3 separate regions of the Homo sapiens genome follow, and all the other regions are reported to be linked to region 1. Evidence: microRNA targets listed by miRTarBase, many of them from high-throughput screens and not tested one by one. Region 1 holds a microRNA gene; each other region holds the end of a gene's coding sequence.
Evidence for each region. The annotated mature microRNA hsa-miR-6893-5p reads CAGGCAGGUGUAGGGUGGAGC and lies in region 1 at 2,598-2,618, opposite strand. An mRNA with a match to its seed (bases 2 to 7 or 8) in the 3' UTR can be bound and repressed. Matches are read on the target gene's strand: a 7mer-m8 pairs with bases 2 to 8, a 7mer-A1 pairs with bases 2 to 7 and ends in A, and an 8mer does both.

Region 1 (4,148 bases):
CCCTGTACCCACACATCCATCTATTGCTCCCAGGTGCCAGGCCCTCCCGGAGAGCCAGGTCTGGCATCCCAGGCCCCTAGACGTTGTTTGTTTCGTTTTTTTGACACGGAGTCTTGCTCTGTCGCCCAGGCTGGAGTGCAACGGCGCGATCTCGGCTCACTGCAAGCTCCGCTTCCCGGGTTCATGCCATTCTCCTGCCTCAGCCTCCTGCGTAGCTGGGACTACAGGCACCGGCCACCACGCCCAGCTAATTGTATTTTTAATAGAGACGGCGTTTCACCGTGTTAGCCAGGATGGTCTCGATATCCTGACCTCGTGATCTGCCCGCCTTGGCCTCCCAAAGTGCTGGGATTACAGGCGTGAGCCACTGCGCCCGGCCTAGACGCTTTTTTCTTAAGGGATGGGGTCTCACTATGTGGGCCAGGCTTTCCTGGAACTCTTGGCTCAAGCGATACTCCCGCCTCAGCCTCTCAAGTAGCTGGGACCACAGGTGTTGCCCCTGTGTGCCCAGCCTGGGCCCCCTCTGAAAGTCCTGGAAACCCTCAATGCCCCAGGGCTAGGGAGTGGACAGGGAGTGCCTGGTCAGCTCACCTTGGAAAGCACTACCCAGTGCTGTCTGGTGGCTCAGAAAGAAGCTGGGGCCGAAGCCACACGCCTGCAGGCGCAGGGTGCTGAGTAAGGGGCAGGCGTGCAGGAGGGAGGCCAGGGACTGGCCACAGCCGTCCCCCAGGGGGTTCATGCTTAAGTCCAGCTCCTCCAAACTCTGTGGAAGACACAGGCTGGCAGTGAGCCCCCAGCAGTCCCACGGACAGGGTCCCCCTTGGGGCTTGGCTTGGCAGTCTCTTCCCCACCTTGCCTGGCATAGCCTATTACAGCCGGGCACTGGCTGGCTCTCCCAACTACCCTAGACCACCCAGGGACCTGCAGAATGGGAACCCCAACTCCCCGCTGTTGAGGGCCTGCTGCTCTCTGTGCCTATACCTGCAAGGTGGCTTGGCCTGGGAGCCCCATGGCAAGCTGGCGCAGGCCTTCGGGACCCAGGTGATTGGAGGAGAGGTCAAGGAGGGCCAGGCTGGGCATGGTGCCCAGGGCAGCCACCAGCTCAGCCACACACTTGTCCCCCAGCCGGTTCCCTGCCAGGCGCAGCTCCCGGAGTGCTGTGTGCAGCTTGAGGGCCCGCAGCAGGGGTGTAAGCTGGGCCTGGTCCAGGGCCAGGGAGCAGGCGCTGAACGAGAGGCCCAAGCCCTGGAGCTCCACGGCCTGCAGCACCTGTTGGTGCTCCCCTGCGGGAGGGATGTGATGTCACCAGGGTAAGGCCGGCCCTTTCTGCCCTCTGAATCCCAGAGGGCAAACCAGGCAGCCCCTTTTCAACAGCCCCAGGGGTCACCCACCAGACTTGCTGTAGAGCCCACTCGCACATGCCTGTGGGTCTAGCACTGTGAGGCCCTGGGGGCCGGGGTGGGTCTGCAGCACCCTGAGCTCCACCAGTCACTGCCAGATTCCACACCCCCCGGGACAAGCTTTCTGGGAAGCTTCCCCAGCAGCTCCCAGCCCATGCCAGGCCCTCCTCCTTGGGTTTGACTTTCCAGGCTTTCGGCTGCTTTTTGCCATCTCCCTGTCAGCAGATCATGGGGGCTGAGGGCTGTCCTCTCCCTTCCACCCACACATCCAAGTGCAGGACACAGCACCCACCAGGCTGGGGGAGGTGCACCCCAAAACACCCGAGGCCCAGGAATGAACCGGGCTGGTGGAGCCTGTGTGCCCAACCCCCTTGTACGACCTCACCCAGAAACTGCAGCTCTCCTGGCCCTCACCTTGCCCCAGGCTCTGGCAGGCCCTGCGGTAGCGGTCAGTCAACGGGGGCAGGTCCCACGAAGTCACCTCAGCCAACACCTGGAAGGCACCGTCATGAGCCACCTGGGGGCTCCCCCGGCTCACCTCATCATTGCTCTGCAGCCATGAGCCACCCGGGGGCTCCCGGTGCCTGAGGCCCTGGCTCCCCCTCCGCTCTGCGGCTCACCTCGTCATTGCTCTGCAGCACATCAGGGATGAGGTCCTGTGGGGCCAGCAGGGCCCCCTCTTTCCGTAGGGTGAGCCTGGGCAGCAGCCCGCAGGTCTGGTAGTAGCGCTGGGCCGCCTGCTCGGCCAGCCAGGCCACAGAGTGGGTGTCACTGCTGCAGGGACAGAGGCGCTGCTGCTGCTGCCTGCACACAGCCGGGGTAATGCCCCAGGGACCCGCCATCCCTGCCCAGGGCCAGAAGCCCCCTCAGCTGCTTCTCCCATTCCCAGGTAGCCGGCCCCTCCTCTCCCTGCAGCCCAGCACACCACCAGCCCCTCTGCTATTCCTGGGGGCCACAGGATCCTCCTGGAACACACCAGGGAGCCCTCGTCACACGCCCCACCCTGACATGCAAACACGAGCACCCTGGCATGGAGCTGCACAGGTGGGCTGCGGGGTAGGGCAGGCGATGCCTCACCTGTGTGGGACAGGGATGAGGAAGAGATGATCCTGAACTTGAACTCGAACCCGGATGGGAGGGGGCGGGGCCGGACCCTGGCAGGTGAAGGCAGCAGGGCTGAGTCAGGAGCCACAGTGGGCTCCACCCTACACCTGCCTGCCCGGAGTGGGGAGAGGGCTCTGCTCCAGGTCTGCATACCCACCAAGGGCTGGCCTGCCGCAGAGCTGTCCCCACTGGGCTCTGAGACCCTGGGGGTGCTGGGGCTCCCTGGAGGTTCTGAAGCCAGGCTGCTGGGCCCTGCGTTAACTGGCGCACTGCAACTCTGCATGCAGGTCAGGCGGACCTGCTTGGCTCGGGCACGGGGCCTGCTCTCCTCACTGTCCGACCCAGAGGTACTACTGGGCCTGCGGTTGTCTCCAGTGCCCCGGGGGCGGGGCCGGCGGCTGCGGGTCAGGGGCATGTCCAGCTCCAGCCAGTCCCCGGCCAGGCACTCCTCCTCCGGGATGAGCGCTGCCTGGGGGGCAAGGGCTTTGCTGTGGCCCCGCGGTGGGCCAGGCCCCAGCCGGCTCTGAGCACTGCCCACACCCCGGATGGCTGCCTGGTAGGCTGCCCGGCTGGTGCTGGCTGTGGCTGCTTCCCTGTTGCTGGCGGGGCCAGGCGTCCAGGCTGCCACCCGTTGTGCTGTGGCCGAGCACCGAGGCCTCTTCTGGGACGGCCGTGCGGGGCCTGCGCTGTCCTCGCCTTCTGAGCTGCTGCTGCTGCTGGCTGGCCCATGCCTGCTCCTCCGAGGCCTGGCCATGGCTGGTGCCGCCTGCCCTGGGGAGACCCTGACATGGGCCTGAGAGGCCTCTGGGAGTCTAGTGCTATTAGAGGGGGGTTCTGGGCAGGGGCTCAAAGGAGGAGAGGTCTCGGGGTCAAACAGAAGGCTGCTTGGGGTGTGGAAGGCCTGGGAGCTGTGGGGATCTGTGGGAGAGAGAATGCGTGTTGAGGCAGGGGCCCGGCACCTCCCGCTCCACCTGTGATGGAGCATCTCCCGAAATCAGGGCCCGGGGACTCTCAGCGTAGGCACAGCAACCCCAGGGACAAGGGACGCCCTGCTTGCCTTGGCCCGAGGCAGCCGCCTGGAGCAGCATCTCCATGGCCCTGGCCTTCTGCCGCGTCTCCAGGTCCAGGTCCCTGCGGTACAGCTTCACCCACTGCTGCAGCGTCTCCAGCGGGCTGAGGCCCTGTGTGGCATCAGTTGAGCAGGGGCACAGCAGCCCCCATAACCTCGCCCTTGCCCTCTGCCCCACCAGGCTCACCTTTCGAGTGCGGAGGGTGACGGACGCCCCCCGTTCAAGCAGCAGCTCAGCCACCTCGAAGTGGCCACAGTTGAGGGCATCGTGGAGGGGGGTGATGCCTTCGCAGCCCTGGCCACCTGGGTCGTCCACTGCGGCCCCGTGGTCCAGCAGGAAGCGGACAATTTCTGCAGACCAGGAGACGTAAGCCCAGCTCCCGATGCCCCGCCAGGACTGACTCTTCGCCCCACGTGTCCACCAAGGTGCGCCAGGCTCCTTCTGTCCCTTGCTCACCTAGATGCCCGTAGTTGCAGGCCTCGTGCAGAGGTGTCCAGCCACAGTAGTCCCGAGGGTTAAGGGGGTGGCCCTGTGACCAAGGACAGGAAGGAGCCTGGCCCTGTGTACCTCACAG
Region 2 (4,000 bases), not on the chromosome of region 1:
AGAAGATGACGTTTCTAGGTGGGGACCAGGATGCCGTTCCACCCTCACTGCCTGTTGGGCCCTTCTCCCTGGGTTTGTAGTCTCCCTAACACCTGTCCCTATCCCTACAGGATGTGTGCCCCTGTGATGGTGGAGCTGGAGGGGGAGACAGATCCTCTGCTCATTGCCATGAAGGAACTCAAGTAAGTCACTCAAATCATGGTTCACTTCTCCAAATCTCTGGGAGGCATCTGTTGGGCTCTCTGTTGCACCCTTTGCTCCCACTTGCCTGGCTGGAGAAGTTGATGCTTATTCCTACAGATCCTTAGGAACAGCTCACCAGGAAGTAGGAGGAAGAGAGAAGAGGAGGCAGGGAAAGTGGGAGGGCACTGATGAGACATGGACGTCTTCTGGCTGTTGGAATTTCCCTGTTCCTGCTGCAGGAGGCCTTACCAATATTCTGTCATTCTTCCCCCTCTTGTCTGATATAAAAACTTTCTTTTTCTTGTAATTGCTTTCTTACAAAGTACACTCATCAGCCCCAAGAGGCTGCTCCTAAGACTTCTCTTTGCTTGTGTTTTGCACACAATCTGTTCCTTCTGCGGCAGAGCTGGGGTCACCAGCCCTCATGTACTTGTGACTTCTCCCCTGCCACAGGGCCCGAAAGATCCCCATCATCATTCGCCGTTACCTGCCAGATGGGAGCTATGAAGACTGGGGGGTGGACGAGCTCATCATCACCGACTGAGCTGGAGTCATCTTCCTGCCCTTGCCCCATGCCCAATTTTCATTCTCACTTTATATGTGTAAATAATAAAATATTCAACTTTCCAACCCCCTTCCCCTCTGCTTATCTGCAATGTCACCACCTGTTGCTTCCCCGTTACCGCCATGCTGCGTGGAGCATGCACCTATTCCAGTGGCCCTGTGACTGTCAGCTCCTTAAGAAGCACCAGGGGCCCTTAGCCCCTTTGGATCCCCCACATCCTTCCCTCCATCTCCCTGTTCCCCAGAGCAAAGGCTGCTGCAGGGGAGACACCTCAGCTGCCTTCCAAGCAGACAGACAAGTCTTTGTGCCCAGGGAGCTGGTTGCCACGGAAACCCCCAATTTCCTTTCCAGTGGGGACTGGCTGCAGGGGCTTCTCCCTTCTCAGGAGTATCACAGAGCAGGTCTCATCAAGCCACCCATTGTTTCCTAAGGACCTGCTTCGAGCCTCTTATCGTGGGCTCGGATCCCCTTTCAGGAGCAGTGCCCCAGCAGGAAGCGTGGGGGTGTGCTGATCTCCCACCCTCCCCAGGCAGAGCCCTGCTGGGCAAGTCAGCAGCTGGAGCAAGGACCGAGCACCTGCCTACCCCTGCCCCCATGGCTCTGTCCCCACTCCTCCTCAGGACTCTGCCCACACGCTGTCCTCTGTGGCCCACCTCTTTGGTGTGCCACACCCATGCCTTCTTCCTAGCCTCTATAAGATATCCTTTCCCTCCTATTTGGGGCTGGTGATCCCCTGAGGCCTTGGGGACATGGTGCTGGGGTGGTGGTGCTCCTGGGTTCCAGGTGTTACATTAAGTCAGAGCTGGAGTTCCCCCTTCCTCTGCCTGAGGTTCTAATGGGTCCTCTTCCTTTCTCCACCCTGCTTACCCAACCTGAGGTAAGACCAGTCACACTGGCTCCTCCCTCCTAGAGGGGGTCAGGGGGAGGGTGTATATTGACATGAACAGGGATAGAGGGTAAACTGGCTCCCTGAATATGCCAGCCTTAACCTCCATTCCACTGCCAGCTCCCCTTCAAAGAGGAGGAGCTGGGCTTCCCTAACCTCTGCAGGAGGCAGGGCCTCCAGGCCTAGGTGCAGCCTGGCCCTGGGATGGGATGTGGGGAGTGAATGGTGAGGATCTGCATTGGTGGGAGGGGTGTCCGCTGCCCTGGAGAAGGGTTAATTCAGGGAGCAGTGGACTTCACACTCCCATCCACCCTCCTCCAAGCCTGTGGAATCCTTTAATCAAGTTGGGTGCTGAAATTTCAGCTCTGAAATGCCGCCTTTGTGCTGGCATCCAGGCAGCCGCCCCAGAGTGCGGGGGTCACTTTCTCGGCCCCATTTCTCTAAATGGTCTCTTTGTTCCCTGCTGGGCTGCTCAGTATCAGATGTGATTAAAGGGAGATGGGGTTTGGGCTGGGGAGGAGGGGAATTGGGGGTTAACCCTTAGGGGATAGAGTGCAAGGGAAATGGGACAGAAGGGGTGTTTTTCCTCCTGTCTTCCTCTTCCCATTCTCCTCTTTTGGGGAGTCCCCTGCTATTCAGCTGTCTGGGCCTGGCTTTTGACTTCTCTTGAATAAAATGTCCCGGTCACCACTATTGGTTCTGTTTTCTTAGGGTTTGGGCATAGTCTCTTGAGTCATTTCCAGAAACACCTGACCCTTTTTTAACAAGTGGAGCTCCTGCCTTCCTGAGGCCTGTGCACACTTGGAACCTTTGGTCTAAGGGATGCACACAACCCAGGTCTTCTGACTTCCTTGGGGTCATTTCCCCTCCTTCCACATCCTCAGTGATTTCCCACTCACTCTCATGAGATGTGGGGTCTTGGAGGTGATAGTGTCATCTTCCGGATGTGCCCCCTGCTCCCCACTGTGCCAGCTCCATATCCCTCATCCCACGGCGAGCAGGAGTAGTGAACAGACCACAAATGGACAAAAGTCCTGCCTTTCAATGAAGGGGAAAGGGTGGGTTGTAAAGATTATAAACACATAAGGTTAGTACTGATTGATCCATGACAAAATTCTAGAATAGGTCCCTCCATGTTTAAAAGTGCTTATATAATAAAGAGGAGATCGGGCACTAGCATAGGGTGTCTAAGAACCAATATTGCCAAATAAGTTTTTTTTTCGATGGTTACTGGTCCAGTAGGTTGAGAGAATGCCAGAGATCAGTGAATCTTGATTTTGACAAGGCATCAGTAGTCTCCATGCCACTGTGACAGAGAAGTGTGTGCTTCATGGTGATGTAATTAGACAGTTTTAGAACTGATTAGACAGCCTCAAGAGTGGAGATAATAGCTGGGCGTGGTGGCTCACACCTGTAATCCCAGCACTTTGGGAGGCTGAGGTTGGCAGATCACGAGGTCAGGAGATCAAGACCATCCTGGCTAACACAGTGAAACCCCGTCTGTACTAAAAAATACAAAAAATTAGCCAGGTGTGGTGGCGGGCGCCTGTAATCCCAGCTACTCGGGAGGCTGAGGCGGGAGAATGGCGTGAACCCGGGAGGCGGAGCTTGCAGTGAGCCGAGATCCCGCTACTGCACTCCAGCCTGGGCGACAGAGAGAGACTCCGTCTCAAAAAAAAAAAAAGAGTGGAGATAATAGGCCAGGTGCGGTGGCTTACGCCTGTAATCCCAGCACTTTAGGAGGCCGAGGCAAGCGGATCATGAGGTCAGGAGATTGAGACCATCCTAGACAACATGGTGAAACCCTGTCTCTACTTAAAAAAAAAAAAAAAAAATTAGCTGGGCGTGGTGGTGCACACCTGTAGTCCCAGCTACTCGGGAGGCTGAGGCAGGGGAAGCACTTGAACCCAGGAGACAGAAGTTGCAGGGAGCCAAGATTGCAACATTGCACTCCAGCCTGGCAACAGAGCAAGACTCCATCTAAAAAAAAAAAAAAAAAAAAAAAAGAGTGGAGATAATAGGACTGACAGTGGAGAGAGGCGTTTAATGCTGTACACAGGTGTCCCTCTTCATTTCGACCTTTATTAGTGACTTGAATGAGGCTATTCAAGTTTGCAGATACATAAAGCTCTAAAGGAGAGCTAAGTTCTAAAAAGTTTAATACAGGTGGGGAAATGGGTCAAACCCAACAAGGTGAGATCTGTTAAAGATCAGTGTAAAGTCCTGCTTTTATCTAAAACAAAACAAAAACAGCATACATACAATTTGGATATGACTTTGCAATGGATATTGTCTAAAAGATCGGGGTTTCGGTTACCATCCAGCTTCACGGGAACCAGCAGTTTTGGGGAGGTTGCTTGAAGAGC
Region 3 (4,000 bases), not on the chromosome of region 1:
TCTTTAATACAGGGTGAAAGCCTGGCTTACTAGGTATTGACTCAGCAGGGATTTTTCTCGGCCCCATATTCAAGTAAATGATTGAGTATATGTCTTATGTGATTAGGCTGAAATGCCTTCATCCCTTCTGTAGGACATGGACCCCCGGCTGATTGCATGGAAAGGAGGGGCAGTGTTGGCTTGTTTGGATACAACACAGGAACTGTGGATTTATCAGCGAGAGTGGCAGCGCTTTGGTGTCCGCATGTTACGAGAGCGGGCTGCGTTTGTGTGGTGAATGGGGAGGAAATGTCACTGCCGAAGACCAAAAACAAGCTTCTTGGTATAAAAGACTCTTACAGAATATGTGTATTGTAATTTATTGATCTGGATGCTTAAGTGTCATGGACAGTAAATGAATTTGAACTTTATGTTGAGGACATGACATTGGTTTGAAAATATAAACTGCTTTTGAGCAGTTTAGTCAGGGCATTTGAGAATAAATAGGAACTTTCTCTTCAGTTGTAAACTCTCTTGCCCTCTCTCAGGGTCTCATAAACTCCCCAGTGATGTAAACGTTGCTATTGAAGGTTCTCATGTGGTGAAGCCCTTCATTTAAGTTGGCTTGAATCTCATCAGCAGGCAGCCTCATGCAACCATGAGGGATAGTATGTGACGAGGGAGAACTGTCCACTCATGCCATTTTCTCTCTTGTCTAGTATTTCATTAGGATCTAAAGTTGTCTGAGTTAAATGCACTTATGTGACTCATGTGTCCTCTTAGAATCCCAAATAGGGGGAAAAAGTTTTGGTGGTTTTTGTTTTTTTTTTCATTTTCTGTTGGATTACAGAAAAAGAATGGGACCCATTCAGGTCTCGATTTCCAAAGGTAAAGATGGAAGGCTGGGCAGACTGGCTTTTGTTACCTGACATGCCGTAGGGTGAGCTTAGAGGAAGAAAGAAAACAATTTTTATTTGGCCAAAACAGAACAAATGCTGAAAAGGAAATCTTGTTTTTTTCCTAAAGCCAAATAGAAATGATTTGGGTATAATTTAAGAGTCCTTGTGTTGTACAGATATGGTGACTGATGTAGTTATTAATACTACCAACTTAGTCATCAAGCCTCAATTTTCCTTTACCTGAAGGATTAAGTGAAAGCTTTTGGAGTTCATGATGTTCAGTATGATCAGTTAACCTTAACCTCTGAGCATCCTGAAGCAAAATCTAAATAATGCAGCTATTACCACTGGTGGTCCAGGCTCTGGTGAAGCCCTCTGAGCCCAGGAGGAAGAGAAAGCATTGTCCAGAGGTAGGAACACAGTCTGGGAGCCCAGAGCTCTGGGAGGAGTGGGAAAATGCTGCTTCCTGCTGCTTGCTTCTAGGCACCTGCTTCCGCCATCTCACTTACCATGGCTAGAGATGGGGGTGAGACTGGGGAAGGACAAAAGCAGGGAACAGATAAGTGATGGAAATCAGAAGGGAATATAGAAAGAACTCTGGATGTGGAGAAATGCCGGTACCTGAGCATTTTGTATCAATGGGAGTACCCTCTGTAACTGCTCAGTAGGTTACAAATGAAGAGTCCACCAGTATTAGAAACAATTTAAACTTGCCAGTACCAACTGGGATGTGTGCCTTCAATTTGAAAATTGTATGTTTTATTTTTTAAATTTGTTAACAGCATTAATTTATAGAGTATTGATGTCATTTATGTTTCTGAGGTGTTTCAACACAATTTTGGATCAGCTGCCTGTTTGCAAAAACATAATATATTTCTGTTAAACAGTTCTTCACCTAACAGCATATTGCTCTTATAACTGGTAGAGCTGTTTCAAAGGAAGTTGGTTTCTGGTCCAAGTTTTGACCTAAACCATGTCCATCTTCTATTACCAGCACTTACAAGCACTGTGAAAACTGATCATGACAAATAAGTAAAATTTGCTACATTAAACATATTGCCTCAGCCATTACTAAGCGTCCACTTGTAAAGCTGGACACAGTTTTTACTTTATGCTTCATTTTGATTTTTTATCCGTAAGACATAAATTAGAAGGCATGAGGTGGCCCTTTAAGGATAATCTGCAAATATACACATTTTAATAGTCATCCATCTGAAATCGATCCACATTCCAGAGAAGATTCAGTATTGTGCTGTGTGAAATAAGCATTCCCAGAAAAAAAACATTTATGCTAATAATACAACATAACCTCTGCATTAAAGAAAAAGATGCTTTTAGGCCAGGCGCCGTGGCTCACACCTGTAATCCCTGCACTTTGAGAGGCTGAGGTGGGTGGATCATGAGGTCAGGAGATCAAGACCATCCTGGCTAACAGGGTGAAACCCCGTCTCTACTAAAAATATAAAAAGTTAGCTGGGTGTGGTGGTGGGTGCCTGTAGTCCCAGCTACTCAGGAGGCTGAGGCAGGAGAATGGCGTGAACCCGGAAGGCAGAGGTTGTAGTGAGCCGAGGTCACGCCACTGCACTCCAGCCTGGGTGACAGAGTGAAACTCTGTCTCAAAAAAAAAAAATTTAAAAAATTTAAAAAAGATGCTTTTAGAAGAGTAAAAAGTTGGAAGACAAAATGTGCATCTTTTATGTTCTGTCATTCTGTGGGGGTTTTTTCGTTTGTTTGTTTTAGACAGGGTCTGCTCTCACCCAGGATGGAGTGCAGTGGCACAATCACCGTTTACTGCACCCTTGACCTCCAGGGCTCAAGTGATCCTCCCATCTCAGCCTCCCTAGTAGCTGGGACCACAGGCTTACACCATCACACTCAGCTAATTTTTTAAATCTTTTGTAGAGATGGAGGTCTCGCTTTGTGACGTAGCCTGGTCTTGAGCGATCCTTTTGCCTTGGCCTTGCCAAAGTGCTGGGATTGGAGGCATGAGCCACTGCACCCACCCCTGTTTTTTATTTAAGTAAACCATTATAATAACTCATTTATAAAAAGGTTACTTCAAGAGGGCTTTCAACTTAAGAATTATTTTCATTTTGAACATGAAAAGTTAAATAGTAACTAAGAAACTGAGAACTCTGACAGTGACCTCTAATAGGTAACTTTAGGCAAAAGTAGACAAGTTTGTGGGTATTTTGTTGTTCATGTTAAAAGGCACCTGTACAAGAATCAAGATATGAATCTAGTTTGTAGAGGGAAGGTCTTATGCAAATACCAAATCATACAAGTGGTTACACATATAATAGATCATTTGGTCCAGTAAAAGTGGGTTCAGCTTGTTTATTCCCTACTTTTGTTATCTTAAAAACAATGATTTTTTGCATGTAATAGAAGGTTTTTCACTTAAGATGCTATTGAGTGAATCAGTGAGGGGTTCTTAGAGTTAGTATTCATTAATTAAACATAGAATATTAGCTAAACAGTTCTGGGTACACTGCAATGCATGGTCTATGGAAGACTAGATGTTTGGCTGAAGATGCTTTATTGTTGCATTATCAAAATGGTTATAGTTTTCAATTAAAACTGTAATTGATTTCTATGTATAAAACAGCTTTGAAGTTGTAAATGTAGTTTCCAATCGTTAGTTAATGCTACATTAGTTAGCAATATTTGAAAATTTTATTGGTATAAAATGTTTTAATTACTAAGGCTGTTTGTAGGCTGCATAGTAAGCTTCAGGATCATCACACGTTTTTTCCCTGTAATTGGTGGGATAGGAAGCCTTTAAGGTCTCTTGCTTCTCATGGGTGGGCTACAAGGAGCAGCAGCCATCGTGGCAGGCTTGTGATCTTTTTCCTGCTGACACCTGCTGCTTGACATGGAGAAGTTCTGCACAGAAAGCAGTGGCATCCTTCATGAGGTGGTACTTGGGGCAGACACTGAGAGCATTGTAATCGTCTTTTGTATCAATCTCTCTAAAGTAGACCACCACGTATTTGTGCAGATGAATCTGGCTTCTTAGATCACTGCAGAAAAGGTTAAAGGCAAGGGGGAAGAGGTCTTGAGAGTTCTCACTGGGACTGCCCTCGCTCTTGCCACAGGTACCATCGCACACACTGTTGACG

Region 2: the mRNA of POLR2F is a reported target of hsa-miR-6893-5p. Seed matches in the 3' UTR shown: 8mer at 1,324-1,331.
Region 3: miRTarBase lists IL17RB as a target of hsa-miR-6893-5p. The part of its 3' UTR that is shown has no 7-base or 8-base seed match.

Annotation. Positions count from the first base shown.
Region 1 is chr8:144,432,997-144,437,144 of GRCh38, forward strand. MIR6893 (microRNA 6893) reads right to left here and starts at 2,623; the gene lies at 2,555-2,623. It overlaps TONSL (tonsoku like, DNA repair protein), which reads right to left. Exons shown (of 26, transcript NM_013432.5): 14 at 4,031-4,103; 15 at 3,761-3,924; 16 at 3,562-3,685; 17 at 2,662-3,422; 18 at 2,478-2,554; 19 at 2,021-2,174; 20 at 1,815-1,893; 21 at 982-1,283; 22 at 592-763. It overlaps TONSL-AS1 (TONSL antisense RNA 1), which reads left to right and starts at 2,172. Exons shown (of 6, transcript NR_109770.1): 1 at 2,172-2,444; 2 at 3,755-3,999.
Region 2 is chr22:37,966,989-37,970,988 of GRCh38, forward strand. It overlaps POLR2F (RNA polymerase II, I and III subunit F), which reads left to right. Exons shown (of 5, transcript NM_021974.5): 4 at 111-182; 5 at 637-2,324. The coding sequence ends at 727. MIR6820 (microRNA 6820) reads left to right here and starts at 575; the gene lies at 575-636. RefSeq lists enhancers at 651-1,151, 1,534-1,828.
Region 3 is chr3:53,864,996-53,868,995 of GRCh38, reverse strand. It overlaps IL17RB (interleukin 17 receptor B), which reads right to left. Exons shown (of 11, transcript NM_018725.4): 11 at 3,202-4,000. The coding sequence ends at 3,688. ACTR8 (actin related protein 8) reads left to right here. Exons shown (of 13, transcript NM_022899.5): 13 at 134-1,930. The coding sequence ends at 277. Among named protein-coding and RNA genes, the nearest start is that of ACTR8, 15 kb to the left of the region's middle.